Regions from separate parts of the Homo sapiens genome. Here region 1 is linked to region 2. The links come from fine-mapping of genetic effects on gene expression. A gene starts in region 2. The other region holds a variant in brackets. All regions are shown on one strand. Distances are from middle to middle. Region 1 has its middle 25 kb from the start of MIR8059. Region 2 holds the start of WFIKKN2 (WAP, follistatin/kazal, immunoglobulin, kunitz and netrin domain containing 2).

The links.
Region 1: its variant is fine-mapped to the expression of WFIKKN2 in blood mononuclear cells (TOPMed, PIP 0.95).

The regions. Positions count from the first base shown.
Region 1 is chr17:50,788,359-50,798,118 of GRCh38, forward strand. No RefSeq gene overlaps it. Among named protein-coding and RNA genes, the nearest start is that of MIR8059, 25 kb to the left of the region's middle. The variant A/G (reference allele first, on the strand shown) is at 6,246.
Region 2 is chr17:50,830,775-50,840,274 of GRCh38, forward strand. It overlaps WFIKKN2 (WAP, follistatin/kazal, immunoglobulin, kunitz and netrin domain containing 2), which reads left to right and starts at 4,812. Exons shown (of 2, transcript NM_175575.6): 1 at 4,812-5,373; 2 at 8,725-9,500. The coding sequence starts at 5,164. RefSeq lists enhancers at 1-452, 453-1,323, 1,483-2,003, 2,004-2,524.

The DNA.
Region 1 (9,760 bases), 42 kb before region 2:
GGAGTCAAGAATGACTGACACTATTTTTTTTTTTGAAATGGAGTCTCACTCTGTCACGCAGGCTGGAGTGCAGTGGTGCAATCTTGGCTCACTACGTCCTCCTCCTCCTCCTGGGTTCAAGTGGTTCTCCTGCTTCAGCCTCACAAGTAACTGGGATTACAGGTGCGCGCCACCACGCCTGGCTAATTTTTGTGTGTTTTAGTAGAGAGGGGGTTTCACCATGTTGGCCAGGCTGGTCTTAAACTCCTGACCTCAGGTGATCCGCCCGCCTTGGCCTCCCAAGGTGCTGAGATTATAGGCATGAGCCACCGCGCCCGGCCAAGGATGACTGACATTTTGAATTTGAACAAGTGGGTAAATGGAGTTACTGTCTACTGAGATGGGGAGTGCTGGGGTAGGGCCTCTGCTTTAGACATAAAAGGTATCTGAGAGCACAGGGTCTTTGGAACCTGGTGTCTAAAGTAGACAAAGAGACTGGCATCTCAGGTAGGAGTGCAGGCTTGGGGAGCCCCACCTTCCACAGTGTGGGGGAAGCAGGAGGCCGTCAGAGTCTCACTAGCCATCCTGTTCATTCATGAATTCATTTATTCATTCATTCAGTAAAAATTTATGGAGCACCAAGGATAAGCCAGACACTTTTCTGGATGCTGGAAATAGAGGAGAACAAGAGGCGGTGTTGCCAGTCTAATTTGGTTCCTTACCTCCAGGTAGAAGAGACAGGTAATGAATAAGCAAACGTGTAAAAGAGAAGATGATCTTACAGAAGGACGGTGTCACAAGGAGCAGTAGAGGGTGGTAGGGAGTGCCAGGGAAACAGAATTGGGTAGGGGGTCACCCAGGCAGCCCCAAGGACCAGTCCCAGACTCCCAGGAGGACCTACCTCAGTTTGTCTTCTTTTTGTCCCACAGAATGGCTGCTATACCATTAGGAAGGGGAGGGAAGAGGAGTGGCCCTGCAGTGACCCTCAGGGGTCTTTGGAGGGGGGGGCTTTGTCCTAGAGGAAGAATCTCTTCGCAGGGTGCTGTGGCTCATGCCTATAATCCCAGCACTTTGAGAGGCCAAGGCAGGTGGAGCACCTGAGGTCAGAAACTCCAGACCAGCCTGGCCAACGTGGTGAAACCCCATCTCTACCAAAAATACAAAAATTAGCCAGGCGTGTTGGTGCGTGCCTGTAATCCCAGCTACTTGGGAGGCCGAGGCAGGAGAATCACTTGAACCCAGGAGGCAGAGGTTGCAGTGAGCTGAGATCATGCCATTGCACTCCACCCTGGACAACAGAAAAAGACCCTATTAAAAAAAAAAAAATTCGCCAGGCGTGGTGGCGCATATGCCTGCAGTCCCAACTACTCGGGAGGGTGAGGCAGGAGATCACTTGAGCCTGGGAGTTTGAGGCTGCAGTGAACTATGATTGTACCACTGCACTTTAGCCTGCGAGACAGAGTGGAGCCCTGTCTCAAAAAAAGGAAACAGCGGGTGTGGTGGCTCACACCTATAATCCCAGCACTTTGGGAGGCCAAGGCAGGCGGATCACCTGAGGTCAGGAGTTCAAGACCAGCCTGGCCAGCACTGTGAAACCCCATCTCTACTGAAAATACAAAAATGAGCCGGGAGTAGTGGTGAACGCCTGTAGTCCCAGCTACTCAGGAGGCTGAGGCAGGAGAATCGCTCGAACCCAGGAGGCAGAGGTTGCAGTGAGCTGAGACTATGCAACTGTACTCCAGCCTGGGTGACAGAGTAAGACTCTGTCTCAAAAAAAAAAAAAAAGGAAACAGAGAACCCATGAGAGGTATATGCTGTGTTCCCACAGAGCAAAACTGCTCAGCCCACTGCAAAATTCTTCTCTGAGTGTGTGGAAATGGGGTTGCTCACTTTCTACCATTTGAGAGTTTCTGCTATGCAAAGAATTTTCTTTGTGCTTCCTGGTGCTTTATCCTGCAAAGAATGGGAGAGTGAGGCCTGTGAAGGCTCATAAGCCAAAGTTCCCATCTGAGCTCTGCCACTGCATGATGGGTGACCTCAGGTGATGTGTTCGTGTCCTTTGGGACAGCAAGAGTTAATATGGGGGAGCAATTTAGTTAAAAGAGATTTTGAAGAAGCTGAACTCAGACAATTGTGAGCAAGCTTCAGGGATGGTTCTGGTTATTGAGACAAGGAACAAGACGAATACTAGAACCTGCGCTGAGGCTGTGGCAGGCTACGGAGAAGAGGAGGCAATGATATCTGCTAGGAGAGTGTTGCATTATGGGGCTGAGGGACTGGGAGGGCCATGGGCATTCCTGGGGCTTCCAGTTTGGGCACTGGAGTGAATGATGGACTATTAACTGGGAGTGAGCACAGAAGGAGAAGCCAGCTCAGAGGGAAAAGGATCAGGTTCTGTTGAGGACACGAAGCGTGAGATGACTGGCAGATTTCTAGAAACACGGATGTGAAGTTGAGGAAGGAAGTTGGACCCATAAGTGCCCAGTCAGAAATCCTCAGGGCCTGGATGGTGCTTGTGCAGAGAACGACCAGATGATAACTCCAGCTGTTTCCCTTTCCTTCTAGGGACACATCCAGAATACACTTTGGGCCAGGCACAGTGGCTCACGCCTGTAATCCTAATACTTTAGGAGGTCAAGGCAGGCAGATCATTGGAGCCCAGGAGTTCGAGACCAGCCTGGCCAACGGGGCGAAAACCCGTCTCTACAAAACAACAACAATAACAACAACAACAAAAATTAGCTGGGCATGGTGGCGTGTGCCTGTAGTCCCAGCTACTTGGGAGGCTGAGGTGGGAGGGTTGCTGGAGCCTGGGAGTTCAAGGTTGCAGTGAGCCAAGATCACATCGCTGCACTCCAGCCTGGGCAACAGAGGCAGACTTGGTCTCAAAAAACAAAACAAAACAAAAGAACACACTTTGCAGCCTCCCTCCATTGAGGGGGCTGCTTTCTGTCCAGTGGAATGTGAGTAAAGTGGCAAAGCCACTTCCAGGTCTGGCCTATGAAAATCTACCCTTAGCTCTCCAATCTTCTCCTCTAGGCATTGGCCGACTTTTTCTGTAAAGGACCAGTTGGTAACGGTTTTAGACTTCATGAGCCATGCCATCTCTATTGCACCTAATCAACTCTGCCGTTGTTGTGTGAAGACAGCCATAAGCAATATGTAAATGTGTCTGTGTTTCAATGAAACTTTATCTACTAAAGCAGGGCCACAGCTACTCTTCTCTCTCTCTTATTTGCTACCTGAATTCTGATATTCAGATCGCCTTTAGAAGCCACATGTTGAAAGTGGCACAGCCTCCCGTTGTCTGAGACACTGTAAGAAACCCAGACAAGAAAACCAGATGGGGTGCAAGGAATCGGCGATTTCCGTTTCTTACAGCAGAAATGGAGGTCCCCCAATTCCTTGCCCCCATCCTCCTTTTATGGAGTAAGAAATAAACCTGTATTGTGTTTAGCAACTGAAATTTGGGGGTGGGGTATCTCTTCCATAAGTTAGTGTTACTTTAACTAAGATAGAATTAGTACTAGGAGCGGGATATTGCCATAATGAAAATCGAAAATGTGTGGCATTGGTTTTGTAGTTGGGCAAGATAGTGAGAAAACCTTTGTCAGGGTTTGGAAAGATGGAGACCCATGCTAGGCAACGGCAAAACATTTGGTAAAATAGTTGCCTGAGATAAACAGGTCAGCTGTCCTCTGACCCTGTAGCTCTAAGGGAAGAAGTCATAAAGTACAGGCAGCACTTAACAAGGTCTCAGAAGAATAAGATGGGACCAGTGAGCACTGGCTGATTTGCAAGCAAAACTAAGATGAAATAGGGACTCCCGGAATTTGGGGTATTGGTTAGGAACATTGACGGCTTCTAGATGCCAAACAGAAGGAAATCATAGCTTAAAGGCCTTTGAGCAGCAAAGGCCCATGAAGCCTCAACCTCAGGCAAGGTCAGAGTCAGGGAGTGTCCTTCCCCAGGCCTGAGAACCTCAAGATTGCCATCAGCACATCGAGAGAGAATGGCCGGAGGGCGGACAGCAGAAGAATCAGGCTGGAGAACTGTGTCTAACTGTGAATTTCGCACGTGGTTGCTGGCATCCAGAAATGACTGGAAGCAAGTAGAGGAGCCTTTTCAGATTTTCAGGGAACTGTATGTCAAATAAGCCATAAGCCTGAACTTCAAAAAATAAACAAATAAAAAAGAGAGAAAGTGTTTGAACTTTTGGGCCTTAAAACCACCTTGAGGCTGGATGTGGTGGCTGACGCCTATAATCCCAGCACTTTGAGAGGCTGAGGCATGTGGATCACCTGAGGTCAGGAGTTCGAGACCAGCCTTACCAACATGGTAAAACCCCATCTCTACTAAATACACACACACACACACACACACACACACAGTTAACTGAGCATGGTGGCGCATGCCTGTAATCCCAGCTAGTTGGGAGGCTGAGGCAGGAGAATCGCTTGAACCCGGGAGGTGGAAGTTGTGGTGAGCTGAGATTGCGCCATTGCACTCCAGGCTGGGCGACAGAGCGAAACTTCGTCTCAAAACAAAACAAAACAAAACAAAACCACTTTGAGATCTTAAAACTTTTACCCGAAGGAGCTGCAGGCTACAAAAGATGAGCAGCAACCCGGGAGGGTCTACCCCTCAACGGTCGCTGCGAATGCGGCCTTGGAGCAACATGGCAAGACGACAGTGTGGAGGGCAGGGCTGGGAGCCATAGAGAAGAGGACAGGGCAATTCCTTCAAGGGTGGGGGCGCTCCCAGCACCCACCTGGCCAAATGGCATCATCGCTGTCATCAGAGCCTGCTTTGCATCTTCTGTTCTTCCCTTCTCTGAAGAGGATGTTGTCCTGTGCTTGCCCTATCTGCACCCCACCACTGGATCCGGAAGTGTGTTGTGTGTCTATACTGGGGTGGAGAAAGGAAGGACACGATAACTTGTTCTTTTAGGCATCGGTTTCCAGATCACAGGGAGTCACAGAGGACCTGGAGGAGAGAATCCTGTGTGTGCTGGAGATCCCGAACTGTGGCGGAGGCCCCAGGAGGCAGTGATGGTGTGGACTCAGCTGCCTCTCCGGGAAGCAGTGAGTGTGTTCCATGTGTAAGAGGAAGAGTGAAATGGCTACTTAGTGGCTATTGGGCAACCCATGGCAGAGACTGGCTAGAGGCTTACGAACGCTGTCTTAGTCCATTTTGCATTGCTGTAAAGGAAACTGAGGCTGGTAATTTATAAAGAAAGAGGGGTGTTTGGCTCATGGTTCTTCAGGCAGTACAGGAAGCATGATACCAGCACCTGCATCTGGGGAAGGCCCCAGGAAGCTTCTACTCAGGGCCACAGGACAAGGGGGAGCAGGCACGCCACATGGCCAGAACGATGCCAGGCTCCTTTAAATAACCAGGCCGGGTGCAGTGGCTCACACCTGTAATCCCAGCACTGTGGCCAAGGTAGGAGGATTGCTTCAGGCCAGAAGTTTGAGACCAGTCTGGGCAACATAGCAAGACGCCATCTCTAAAAAAAAAATCAGGCTGGGCGCCGTGGCTCACACCTGTAATCCCAGCACTTTGGAGGGCCGAGGTGGGCAGATCACTTGAGGCCAGGAGTTCAAGGCCAGCCTGGCCAACATGGTAAAACCTTGTCTCTACTAAAAATACAAAAATTAGCTGGGCATGGTGGCAGGCACCTGTAGTGCCAGATACTCAGGAGGGTGAGGCATGAAAATCACTTGAACCCAGGAGGCAGAAGTTGTAGTGAGCCAAAACTGTGCCACTGCACTCCAGCCTAGGTGACAGAGTGAGACTCTGTCTCAAAAAAAAAAAAAAAAAAAAAAAAAAAATTAGCCAGGTGTGGCGGTGTGGGCCTGCTCAGGAGGCTGAGGTGAGAGAATCACTTGAGCCTGGGAGGTGGAAGTTTCAGTGAGCCGTGATTGCACCACTGCACTCCAGCGTGGATGACAGAGTGAGACCCTGTCTCAAAAAAAAAAAACAGACAAAAACAAAGCACCCACATGAACTAATAGATTGAGAGCTCACTCATTACCATGGGGAGGGCACCAAGCCATTCCTGAGGGATCCACCCCTATGATGCAAACACCTCCCACCAGGCCCACTCCTAACACTGGGGCTCATATTTCAACATGAGATTTGGAGGGGCCAAACATCTAAGCTATATCGAACGCCAGCCCCTCTACTGCCAGATGAACTGCTAGATCACATTCCCGACTTTCATTGCGTTAGATGTGGCCATGGGCGGAGTTCGGGCCAGTGGA[A/G]GGTGGGTGGAAGTGAGGTACTTGTCTATCATAAAAACCCACACAACCTTCCAAACCATTCTCCTTGTTCTCTCCAGGCTGCTGACTGGATACAGATGTCCAAGGCCAATGAGGAAGCCATGTGTCAAAGATGGCAGGGGGCAGGGCATGGTGGCTTACACCAGTAATCCCAGCACTGTGGAAGGCTGAAGCAGCTGGATCACTTGAACCCAGGAGTTTGAGACCAGCCTGGGCAACATAGTGAGACACCATCTCTACAAAGAATTTAAAAACTGGGCCAGTCGTGATGGCTCACGCCTGTAATCCCAGCACTTTGGGAGGCTGAGGCAGGCAGATCACAAGGTCAGGAGTTCGAGACCAGCCTGGCCAACACAGTGAAACCCTGTCTCCACTAAAAAATACAAAAAATTAGCTGGGCGTGGTGGCAGGCGCCCATAATCCCAGCTACTCGGGAGGCTGAGGCAGGAGAATCGCTTGAACCCAGGAGGCGGAAGTTGCAGTGAGCCGAGATCGCACCATTGCCCTCCAGCCCGGGCAACAGTGTGATGAGACTCCATCTAAAAAATAAATAAATAAATAAATAAATAAATAAATAAATAAATAAATAAAATAAAAAACTAGCTGGGCACAGTGGCTCACATCTGTAGTTCCAGCTACTTGGGAGGCTGAGGTGGGAGGATTGCTTGAGTCCAGGGGGTTGAGGCTGCAGTGAGCAGTGATTGCACCACTGCACTCCAGTCTGGGTGGGTGACAGAGCAAGACTCTGTCTCAAAAAACAAACAAAAAAAAACTTTTGTGACTTTGTGGAACTCAGGCCAACTGGATTTCCTATGAAGAAATACACTTCTATTACATTAAGCCACTGAAACCTTGGTGTTTGCCTGTAATAGCAGCTGGTGTCACCTTAACTAGAGTTGAAGCCATGGGAGCAGAGCAACCAGAGCAGGGAGAGGCAGGAAGAGAACTGAGGCAGGACCCTGGGGACACCTCATTAAAGAGCGGCTGACACGGAGGTGGCACAAAGGAGACTGAGAAGGAAGCAAGAGGAGGATGAGGGCAGAGTGGCCTTCTGGAAGAAAAGGAATGTGGTGGCCAGGCATGATGGCTCACGTCTGTAATCTCAGCACTTTAGGAGGCCAAGGCAGGTGGATCACTTGAGGTCAGGAGTTTGAGACCAGCCTGGCCAACATGGTGAAACCCCATCTCTACTGAAAATACAAAAACTAGCCAGGTGTCATGGTGTGTGCCTGTAATTCCAGCTACTCAGGAGGCTGAGGCAGGAGAATTGCTTGAACCTGGGAGGCGGAGGTTGCAATGAGCTGAGATCACACCACTGCATTCCAGCCTGGGTGACAGAGCGACACTCCGTCTCAAAAAAAAAAGAATAGGCCGGGCGCAGTGGCTCACGCCTGTAATCCCAGCACTTCAGGAGGCTGAGGCGGGTGGATCACAAGGTCAGCAGTTCAAGACCAGCCTGGCCAACATGGTGAAACCCCGTCTCTACTAAAAATACAAAAATTAGCCAGGCATGGTAGCAGGTGCCTGTAATCCCAGCTACTCCGGAGGCTGAGGCAGGAGAATCGCTTGAACCTGGGAGGCGGAGGTTGCAGTGAGCCGAGACCGTGCCATTGCACCCCAGCCTGGGCGACAGAGCAAGACTCCGTCTCAAAAAAAAAAAAAAAAAAAAAGGAATGTGGTTGACGGAGAGAGAAGTGTCTTAGTCTGTCTTATGCTGCAATAACAGAGTACCTGAGACTGGATAATTATGAGGAACAGGGATTTATTTCTTATAGTTCTGGAAGCTGGGAAGTCTAATATTGAGGGGCCGGCATCTGGTGAGGGCCTTCTTGCCACATCATCTGACAGTGGAAGGGCAAGAGAGGTAGAGACAGAGAGAGAAAGGGGCCAACTTCATCCTGTTATAAGGAACTCACTCCCACTGAGATAACAGCATTAGCTCTTTCTTGAGGGCAGAACTTCCTGGCATAATCACGTCTCATTAGGCCCTACCTCAACACTGTTGCATTGGGGATTAAGTTTCCAACACATGTTTTTGGGAGTACACATTCAAACCACAGTGAGAAGAAACTCTAGATACGTATGTATACATACATACATAAATATATGTACTTTTTTTTGAGACAGGGTCTCACTCTGTCACCCAGGCTGGAGTGCAGTGGGGGTGATCATAGCTCGCTGCAGCCTCAGCTTCCTGGGTTCAGGCAATTCTCCCACCTCAGCCTCCTGAGTAGCTGATACTACTGGCATGCACGCCACCACACCTGGCTGGTTTTTTTTGTTTTGTTTTGTTTTGTAGAGATGAAGTCTCACTATGTTGACCAGGCTGGTCTCAAACCCCTGGGCCCAAGGTCCACCCACCTCAGCCTCCCCAGGTGCTAGGGTTACATGCATGAGCCACTGAGCTCAGCCAAACACTATATATATATAATATAAAAATATATATGTACAGAGGCAAAGGCTTAAAAAATAATTTAAAAAGTATATCTATATTTTTCCCAAACTAAAAAGGATGTGTCAATTGAGGCCAAGAGGATGCAAACAATCCAAAGACCAAAAGCCTATTATTTAATTAACTTCCTTTCTTTGCTTGTTAGATGAGATTTGGATTTGATGTGTCTGTTTTCTTGGCCCTGGTCTGCTCATGAAAGCCTTCTACAGGGGGAAGCTGTGGGCAGGTTCCTATAGCGACTCTTTGGGAGAACTCTCACAGGGCTGAGTAATTGCTTAGTTCTGCCTGCTTCGTTCCCTTCTGCTTCATAGGTACTACAAAATAGTTGTTGTCCACAGTGGTGAGCCCCGCAGTGAGTGAAAACAAGTTCTGGAAGTTCAGTGTGCTGTCTTGGCACTGGTCCATGTCCTTCATTGTTATGTCTGCAGCCAGAGGGTCTTTTTGATTCTCCAAAAATCCAAGGAACTCCTTTCCCATGAGTACTTTCAGGCCCTCCTTCATTAAGTAGCCTTTATCCCCGGCAAATCTGTGAAACGTAAACAACACGGTTTCCATGGTGTGTTCCATTGGACTGGGGTTGTTCGTGAGATCTGTTGAAACCTTGGCTGGAGGTGCGTTGTGGGCGCTTGGCAAGCTGGGCCTCAGGGCCCCTCGGGAAGGAGCAGTATTAAGAACTTGTTTTGCTATCTCAAGGACAAAAAAACAAACACCGCATGTTCTCACTCATAGGTGGGAATTGAACAATGAGAACACTTGGACACAGGAAGGGGAACATCACACACCGGAGCCTGTTGTGGGGTGGGGGGAGGGGGGAGGGATAGCATTAGGAGATATACCTAATGTAAATGACGAGTTAATGGGTGCAGCACACCAGCATGGCACATGTATACATATGTAACAAACCTGCACGTTGTGCACATGTACCCTAGAACTTAAAGTATTAAAAAAAAAAAAAAGAACTTGTTTTGCAAAGGAGCCCTGGGTCAGGCACAGGGTCTGAGGCTGGCCTTGTGAGGGCCCCTTTCCTTGTGGGGACAGGCCACCA
Region 2 (9,500 bases):
CTAGGAAGACATTTGAATGCCAAAGGAGCCCAGAATTGTGCTGTCCCAGAGGTGCCTCCTCTTCTGGGTTCCTGACACAGAGACTCCAGGACTCCAGATTCCAGGGGCTCACTGCACCTGTAGACCCCCCCGGGCCAGGCAAGGGTCTCCAAGGAGGCCTAGCTGGCCCGGGACACTGGGCCATGCCCCACCCCTGACAACCCCATAATTCTCAGATGTGGATTCAGGACTGCCCTTGCTTTACCTCTCTGCTCAGTGAGGACCCTCCCGTGTCCTGTTCCACACAGATGCAGATGGATCACGTGTCTCACAGCTGAAGGCCTCCCCCATCCGTCTCCACCATCTGCTGAGGCCCCATAATTATTCCAAGGCCCGGTGCAGCCTCACTCAGAGGGGAGAGTTCACGCGGTCCTGTAATGCAACCCAGGCCCGAGGCCGCGCGGGCAGGGGGTCCCAGCTGGGTAATGAGCCGCTGGCTTTATTGAATTCTCCGGCTTGAGTCTGACTAATCACTGCCTTTAGCCAAGGCAACCTGGGCTGCCATCTGAGCACCCTGGCTAGGACTTCCTTTCCTTCTCAGCACCCCAATTCCTGCCCCTCCTCCCCAAACATGTTTAAATGACCAAGATCAGAGCGGGAGGGGCTCCTGGGGGGCTGGTTTCCCCCCATCCATTTGGGAGAAAATGTGGCTGGCTCAGATCTGGGGCCCAAGCAGGGTAGACCAGAATGGGCCGCTGGGGTGTACTTTGCTGGGGCCACCCTGTGCCGCGCCTGCAAGACCTGCAGCTCCCACCCCCACCCCATCTCCTAAACCTGCTGACGTCCCTATCACCTCCCCTTTCCGGAGGCCTGGGCCCCGCGGAGGGAGGGCCTTGGCCGAGGAGACTGTGGTGTGGGCCAGGCCTTTCCAAGGAGAGGTGTAGGAAATGCCTTCCCTCCTTTGAGATTCTGCCCAGGCTTGGGCCCCACCCAATGTCATGGTCGTGCGAGAGCCAGCCCCAGGTCTCTCCCTCCTCTCTGTTCCCCAGCCCTGAGAGGACTCCCCACCAGCATTCACCATTCTTATCTCTGCATGCTGGCTTTCTAGACTAGACGGTACCCTCCCTGTGGACAAAGATTGTTGTTATTTTCTTTTTTTTTTTTTTTTGAGATGGAGTCTCGCTTTGCCACTCAGGCTGGAGTACAGTGGCGTGATCTTGGCTCACTGCAGCCTCCGCTTCCTGGGTTCAAGCAATTCTTCTGTCTCAGTCTCCCAAGTAGCAGGGACTACGGGCTCACGCCACCATGTGCAGCTATTTTTTTTTATTTTTATTTTTAGTAGAGATGGGGTTTCACCATGCTGGCCAAGCTGATCTCAAACTCCTGACCTCAGGTGATCTGCTCACCTTGGCCTCCCAAAGAGTTAGGATTACAGGCATGAGCCACCATGCCTGGCCAGTTATTGGTTCCGATGTGCCCAGAACTTGGCACACCGTAGGTGCTCTAAAAAACCTTTGTGGAGAGAAATAGAGGGAGCAGGTGCAGTGTGAGGTAGGAGTGTGGGTGTGGGGTGTGCATAAGCCACGTGGCACCCAAGATACTCTTGTGGCACCTCTGTACCTCCCCATCGCGGCTGCTGGGGGCTGGCTGACTTGGGAAATGGTATCAGCTGTGCTGTCCCGTCAAGACCCTAGCGGCTCAGGAGTTGTTAATGTCAGGGTGAACCTGAGGTCAAGGGTCACTGAGAGTGACCTGGTGACCTCCTCCCACGGCTCCTAGAGCAGATTTGAACCCACCCTGGCAGTGTGAAGAATCCATGGTTCTCCACCCTGTGACAATGGTGGGGGATGGAGGGGCCCTTCCAAGATGGGGCCAAGCCCAGCCCTCTCTGACCTCTCATTCTGAGTAGCAGGAGAGCTGTGCCTGGTGTCCTTGGGGAAAGGGGAAAAGGCAGATCACGCCCGAGGCCAGGCCTCTGCTCAGGAGACCCAGCCCAGCCTCTGCTCCCAGTGGCCTGAGTGGAGGAGGCCCGGTGGACAGTGGGCATGTGCCACTGAGCCGCTCCCGCTGGGCCCACCTTCAGTACCGTGGGTTTGGTGAGGGTAGGGCCCACACCACCCACAGGGAAGAGTGTGAGGGACACAGAGTCAGACACACAGACACACCAAGAGGAGAGAGAGAAGGAGGCAGATCCAGAGCCAGTTCCAAGGGCCTCTGGGAGGGAGGAGAAGACTTCAAAGCGCTCCCAAACAGCTTATAAACAAGCCAGTGGGCGGGGCAGCCAGCATGGGCTGGGGGTCGCTTTCTGGAGGGGCTGGAAGCTTGCACGGGGTGTGTGGAGGCCATAGGCCCGGGGTGGGCAGGAGGAGGGCCCAGCCTAACCTCTCTGTGACTCGGTTTCCTCTCCCGCGCTAGGGAGCTCCCTCCTGGGGCTGCCGTGGGGTCAGCAGCAACGTGCAGGTGAAAACACTGTGTGGGCTCCAGGCCGATCAGATGTTATTTATTATTCTGAGCTGTGTTTTGGTGGGAGACTTGGAAGGGCTGGAGGGAGAGTCAGAGTGCTTTGGGCTCCTCTCTTTCCCGATGCTGCTTTGAGAGTTCTCAGAGTAGAACGTCCAGGAATGGGGCCCGGGAAGGAGAAGTCCGTGGCTTGAGACAGGACCAGGTTGGGTGTGGGGGCTTTCTCCATCAGCCCCAGGAGTGGGGGTAGGATGGCCAAGCTTCCCCTGCCCTGCCGTGTGCCCCTCTCCTGCCCTCCTCAGCACCCCCCAACCTCTGCTCGGTGCCTCCCCTCCTCCGACCCCCTCTCATCTCTCCCACACCCTCTAATGGTCTCTTGGGACTGCCCAGAAATCGGCCTCCTCTCCTTGGATACTTGTCCTGGCCTAATGGGGCTGTGACAGTTTTTCTAAGTCCTGCTTATAAATGTGTCACTGTCCATGTCCCTTTGTGCTATCAAAGGAGGCTGCGCAAACCGCGTTTGTCCAAGGGCTGTGTGAAGGCCCCCGCGCGGAGCAGCTGGAACACGGGCTGATGAAATTACGGGGAATTCAAAGCAGCCGGCGTCGCCCGCTGTCTGGCTTCATTACGGGGACTGGCCTCGAAGGGAAGTTTATTCCAATAATTTAGAGGATTAGGATCTGACACCCTTCATTAGCGATTTGACATAAGCAGAAAAGACAGATCCTGCAGAATGGCCGCACAACGGGAAGGGACCAGCTCAGGCGGGGAGAAGGCAGCACCCGCCCGGCTGGGAAGGGGAAGGGTCTGGGTGTGGAAGCGAGGGTCCCGTGGCCGTTTTACAGTCCTGTGAGATGGCGAGCTGTGTTCTTGAAGGGGAAAGTGGACGTGGGGAAGGAGCGGCCTGGGCTCAGGCCTCAGTTTCCTTAGCTGTAAAGCGAGATTACCTTCAGGATCCCTTCCGTATCTGATGCGTGTGGGGGCCACTCCACCTACTGTCCCCGGGACACAGCAGCTCCTCAAGGCCCTTGTGGTTTGGCCTTGGAAAGGTACCTCTCTTTCGGGGCTCTATGTGCCTCCGCCCCCTACCCCCAGGATCGAGTGACCAACTCGAAAACACTCAGACTGCAGGCTGCTCTGTGGCATTTTAGATAGAAGCCATTTGCTGCCAAATGGGGGAGGAATCGCCCCCAGCCCCTGGCAGCTTCTGGCTCTCTTCCCGGCCCCTCCACAAATATAGCCCCTGATGTTTCAAAAATTTCTTGTCCAGTCTGTGAAAACCAGAGTTTGGGCTGTGCCTTGACAGCAGTTCTGGCAGATGGATGGGGGAGGGGTGATTTTAAAAGGCCCCTGCCCACACCCAGCAAGCTGGTGTCCCTGTTTCCTGTACCGTGGTGGGGTAGCTGTGCGACATGGGCAGGTTGCTTAGCCTCTCTGTGCGTCCTTTCCTCCGATCTGAAATGGAGGTGCAGTTTGTTGTGAGGATTAAATGAGATGATGCGTTCAGAGAAGCCACACGTGTGAAGAGCCCAGTGCATCTGGCAGCTGGTACCACCAGGACTGCTCACTCTGTGCGACCTTGGACAAGTCGCTCGCCCTCTTCGACCACAGACCTTCTCCTTTGGGAAGTGGGGGAGGCCAGACAAGGCTGGCAGTCAGAAGGAGCTCACTGAAGAGCAGCCACTGTGGTCGTCAGCGAGGGCAGCTGGACTCCGGCACAATCCTGAGACACTGTGACCGCGGAGGTTTTCTCGGTGTGTCGATGGAAGAGGGAGGAATGTGATCCGTCCCAGCCGCCGGCGGGGCCAGAGCATATCTGGTATGTGTCTCTGGAATGATTTGGGGAAAATTAACTGAAGTTGGAACTTAAGACGCAAACTGCCCTGGACACAGAGATACAGAGCTGTCCGTGCGCACACCCCCCACAAAGGGCCGGGGCCGGGGTGGGAGTCGGCTTACAGGGCACAGCGCGGCGCAGGCCCGCCCTGGAATGGCCGTGAACTTGTTGTTTTTCCACGTCATTTGCTCTCAAATGTACTATCAAGCCGGGCGATGCTAACCCGGTGGCTGCAGGTCCCTCCTCGTAACAAGCGATTGTGTGTTCTTTAGAGGTGGCCAAAGGGGAGGAGGGGGCCCGGCCCCAAGGAGGTGGGGGAAAGGGAAACAAGCCCTCCTTCAGAGTGAGCTTGCGTGTCCTGGAGCCAGCTCCCCGCAAAGCACATGCCATTTCTGGCCCTTGAAGGGGTTAAAGGCCTCCTGGAGTCAAAAACAAGCAGGTGTCCCACCGTGCCAGATACGCTGCCTAAACTGCTTCCAGCTTCTTTTTTTTTTTTTCCCCCCTTCTGCAATAAGTCTGTGATCAGCCACGGGACAGAGGCGCCAGCAGCCTGCCTGTGACAGGCATCAGGTTAGCTGGCTCCCACTCGGGTGGCGCGCCCAGGATATAAATCCGGGCGCGGGCCCCTGCTGTGGCTCCTCTCCCTGCACACTCAGGAGAGGGAGCTTCCTTCTAAAGACCTTTCTTTTATCTGAAGCCGCACAGCCCGGCAGGCTGTGCTGACTTGGTGGAGGCAGCAGCGGCAGAGCAGCCTGAGCAGCAGCCTGAGCAGGAAACCTGCTGGGGTGGGGAGGGCAGGTGTCTGCAGCCCCTGAGAAGAAGGCCCTGGTGGGCCCCAGACCCTGGCATCGTTTCAGGGGAGGTCTCTAGCCGCCCCAGCCTGCACCATGTGGGCCCCAAGGTGTCGCCGGTTCTGGTCTCGCTGGGAGCAGGTGGCAGCGCTGCTGCTGCTGCTGCTACTGCTCGGGGTGCCCCCGCGAAGCCTGGCGCTGCCGCCCATCCGCTATTCCCACGCCGGCATCTGCCCCAACGACATGAATCCCAACCTCTGGGTGGACGCACAGAGCACCTGCAGGCGGGAGTGTGAGACGGACCAGGTGAGTGGGGTCCAGAGACCAGAGATGGACCACGTGAGCCTGTGAGTGACGGGGGTGGGAGCCGTCGGGGAGGGACTGTGTGGGAGTGTGAGGAGGACAACGTGAGTGGGGTCCAGAAGCCACAGTGTGAGGCGGACCAGGTGAGTGGTGTCCGGAAGCAGGAGTGTGAGATGGACCAGGTGAGTGGGATCCAGAAGCCACAGTGTGAGGCAGACCAGGTGAATGGGGTCCAGAAGCCGCAATGTGAGATGGACCAGGTGAGTGGTATCTAGAAGTGGGAGTGTGAGGTTGACCAGGTGAGTGGGGTCCAGAAGCCGGTGTGTGAGGCGGACCAGGTGAGTGGGGTCCAGAAGCCACAGTGTGAGATGGACCAGGTGAGTGGGATCCAGAAGCTGGAGTGTGAGGCGGACCAGGTGAGTGGGATCTAGAAGTGGGAGTATGAGGTGGACCAGGTGAGTGGGGTCCAGAAGCCACAGTGTGAGATGGACCAGGTGAGTGGGATCCAGAAGCTGGAGTGTGAGGCGGACCAGGTGAGTGGGATCTAGAAGTGGGAGTATGAGGTGGACCAGGTGAGTGGGGTCCAGAAGCCACAGTGTGAGATGGACCAGGTGAGTGGGATCCAGAAGCTGGAGTGTGAGGCGGACCAGGTGAGTGGGGTCCAGAAGCCAGAGATGGACCATATGAGCCTGTGAGTGATGGGGGTGGGAGCCACAGGGTGGGGACCATGCAGGAGTGCCCTGCAGGTCCTAGGAAGGTGAAGGAACACAGGCCCCGTTCACCTGGAGAGAAACAGGGCACCATCCTGTCTATTAACACCGAAGCCTGGAAGGAGAGGTGGGAGCGATGTCCCAGTTCATCAGGGACTGGAGCCCGAGGATTCCTCCTTCATGCGTGCTGAGGGCTACTGTGGCCAGCACCGTGCCGGGCACGTCGTGTATGTTGGCATGACATGTCAGCATGGTGGGCATCAGCAGCCCATTCACAGGTGAGAGAGTGGACACAGAGCCAGGCACGGAGGGCACAGTTGTCATGGCCAGTGAGGGAACGATGAGCTTGGAACTCATGTCTAACAAGAAAGCTTTGATTGCATTGGACTCCAGGCCACCTCCTCAGGAGTTTGGACCCTGAGCCTGAGAGAAGACCAGGCTGACGGCAGGCCAAGCAGGAGCAGCTCTGAATGGATCTCTGGTGTCCCTGGGAGGAAGGAGACCACGTTTCAGCCTCCCAGCGTCCTTGGTCCTGCCTTCTGCTCTGTATCAGAGGGCACTGCTGCAGGGCAGGGCCAGTTCTCTTCTAGCTCCCGAGTCATTCCCGAGGGCCATTCCTGCCCACCCCCTCTGGGGCAACAGGCTGTGGGACCTACACCTGCTCCAGGCAGAGCTATTTCCTGCCCAGTCTGGCCAGCTCTGAGGGCAGCACGGAGTCTCCCAAGGCTCCAGATCCAGGCTGGGGCATCCCCAGGGAACACGAGAGACACTGGTTCCCCCATAGATGCCTGGTTACCCACAGGAGAGCAGAGGGCTGACCTGGAGAGGGTGGCCTCAACCTCACAGTGCCCAGGGACAATTCTTAGGCCTCCCAGGACAGATGCTCCCCTTGGGCAATGGTGGTGCCAAGTGAAAGGAAGATAAGAAGTCAGGAGGAGTGGTGGCTGCTCCCATCTGGCCAAGGTCATGCCATTAGTTGGCTACATTTGCAGGCACAGGCTGGCCTGATTAACCAGGTAGGGCTTGGGGATGGTGAGACTCTGGTGGATTTTGTGTGTCTTGGAGAGAAGGCACCTGTGGAAGGCTGGGTATCCAGACAGCCCTTGGGGACATTCTGGCCCCCTTACACAGAAGTGTTCTAAGGACCCCCTGTAGGTTCCCTGTGGCCAGAAGTACCTTCCCTCTGGTGCCCAAGGACCCAGGCTTTCATGGACCTCCAGGTCCTGAATGTCTTAGGGAATGGGATGAGGCTCAGGCCAAGGAGAAGGTTCTCCTGCTCCTACTCCCTCTCCTGCTCTCCATTCCCTGCGGGGTCTCTCTCCCTTAGACCCAGCTCTGAGAGCTGCCCATCCCTGTCCCAAAGCCTCCCCTGGTGTGGCCTAGAAGACTATGCCAAACAAGGGCTGCAAAACAAAGTCCCCATTCTGAGCCGAAACGGGTAGAACAGTAAACAAGTCAAGCAGGCAGGCTCCATGCAGCCAGGGTGGGGGGATATTTTCCCCCTCTTAGCTGATGTGGAATGTCAAAGAGGCTGAAATAAAAGTTGGAATGACAAGAGGCCAGCCCTAGTGGGGAGTAATTCACAGAGTTACTACCTGGTGGAGGATTAGGAGCGTTGCCTGCCTGCCAAGTGGGTACGATGTGTTATTGTCGAAAACACCACGTGAAATCCTTGTTTGTGTCAGCTCCAGGAGCATGTTGCTAATTTCGAGGAATTAAACTAATGCTTTACGTGGCTCCACAGAATATCAGAGGGGATTACAGCCTGGCAAGTCCTCGCTGACGGCCTTGCTGACCTTTGCCACACAAGGGGACTTTTTTTCTTGTTGCTTTTCCCGTGAAAGGTCCCACACGGAGCTGATACCTGGGCCTGGCACAGCCTGTGGCTCTGAGACCTGGCGTGTGGGGCCCGTCACGCCTGCCCTGACTGTTGGCTGTGGATCGATCTGGGCCCTCTCACAGCCTCTGTTCCCCGTGTGTGTCGGTCTCCTTGAGGGGAGGAGAGGTGTGGATCATCTCGGATAAAGTCCCAGGGGCATTCCCCTCTTAACCTCTGATGCGATCTCTTCCAGTCAGCAAGGCATCCTCACTCCCATAGGAAAGAGATGAAAGGCAGGCCTACTTGTTCAAGCTAGACCTCATTTGTGCTATATGATGCAGGAGAAAAAACTCCATTTCTCAATCCCTTCCACTGGGAGCTTGGAGCCTTGTTCTGCCACTTCCCGTCTCTGTGAACTTGGGCATCACCTCTCTGAGTCTCTGCAGTCTCATCTGTAAAATGGTTGTAGGAAAACTTTTCCTCTTAGAGTCTTTGGCCCACCCCTTCCTACCCTGCTAGCTGAGTGACCTTGGGAAAGTTACTTAGCCTCTCTGTGCCTCAGTCATCATCTGTGGAGTGGAGATAATGGCTATACCCACCTCTGGCTTGTGATGAGCATAGCAAGCTCACAGATGTCAAAGTTCTTACACAGGGGCCTAGCATGTAGGAGATGCTACGTATGCATTCGTTATTATTTTCAAGTGTTTTGCTCCCACTAGATGGTGAGTACATGTTAGTTCTCCTCCCCACAAACCATGGGGTAGGATAGGGAGCCCCTCCTTTCCTCCTTCTCCCTGTTCAGGCCACTCTCTCTGGCTCTTTCAGGAGTGTGAGACCTATGAGAAGTGCTGCCCCAACGTATGTGGGACCAAGAGCTGCGTGGCGGCCCGCTACATGGACGTGAAAGGGAAGAAGGGCCCAGTGGGCATGCCCAAGGAGGCCACATGTGACCACTTCATGTGTCTGCAGCAGGGCTCTGAGTGTGACATCTGGGATGGCCAGCCCGTGTGTAAGTGCAAAGACCGCTGTGAGAAGGAGCCCAGCTTTACCTGCGCCTCGGACGGCCTCACCTACTATAACCGCTGCTACATGGATGCCGAGGCCTGCTCCAAAGGCATCACACTGGCCGTTGTAACCTGCCGCTATCACTTCACCTGGCCCAACACCAGCCCCCCACCACCTGAGACCACCATGCACCCCACCACAGCCTCCCCAGAGACCCCTGAGCTGGACATGGCGGCCCCTGCGCTGCTCAACAACCCTGTGCACCAGTCGGTCACCATGGGTGAGACAGTGAGCTTCCTCTGTGATGTGGTGGGCCGGCCCCGGCCTGAGATCACCTGGGAGAAGCAGTTGGAGGATCGGGAGAATGTGGTCATGCGGCCCAACCATGTGCGTGGCAACGTGGTGGTCACCAACATTGCCCAGCTGGTCATCTATAACGCCCAGCTGCAGGATGCTGGGATCTACACCTGCACGGCCCGGAACGTGGCTGGGGTCCTGAGGGCTGATTTCCCGCTGTCGGTGGTCAGGGGTCATCAGGCTGCAGCCACCTCAGAGAGCAGCCCCAATGGCACGGCTTTCCCGGCGGCCGAGTGCCT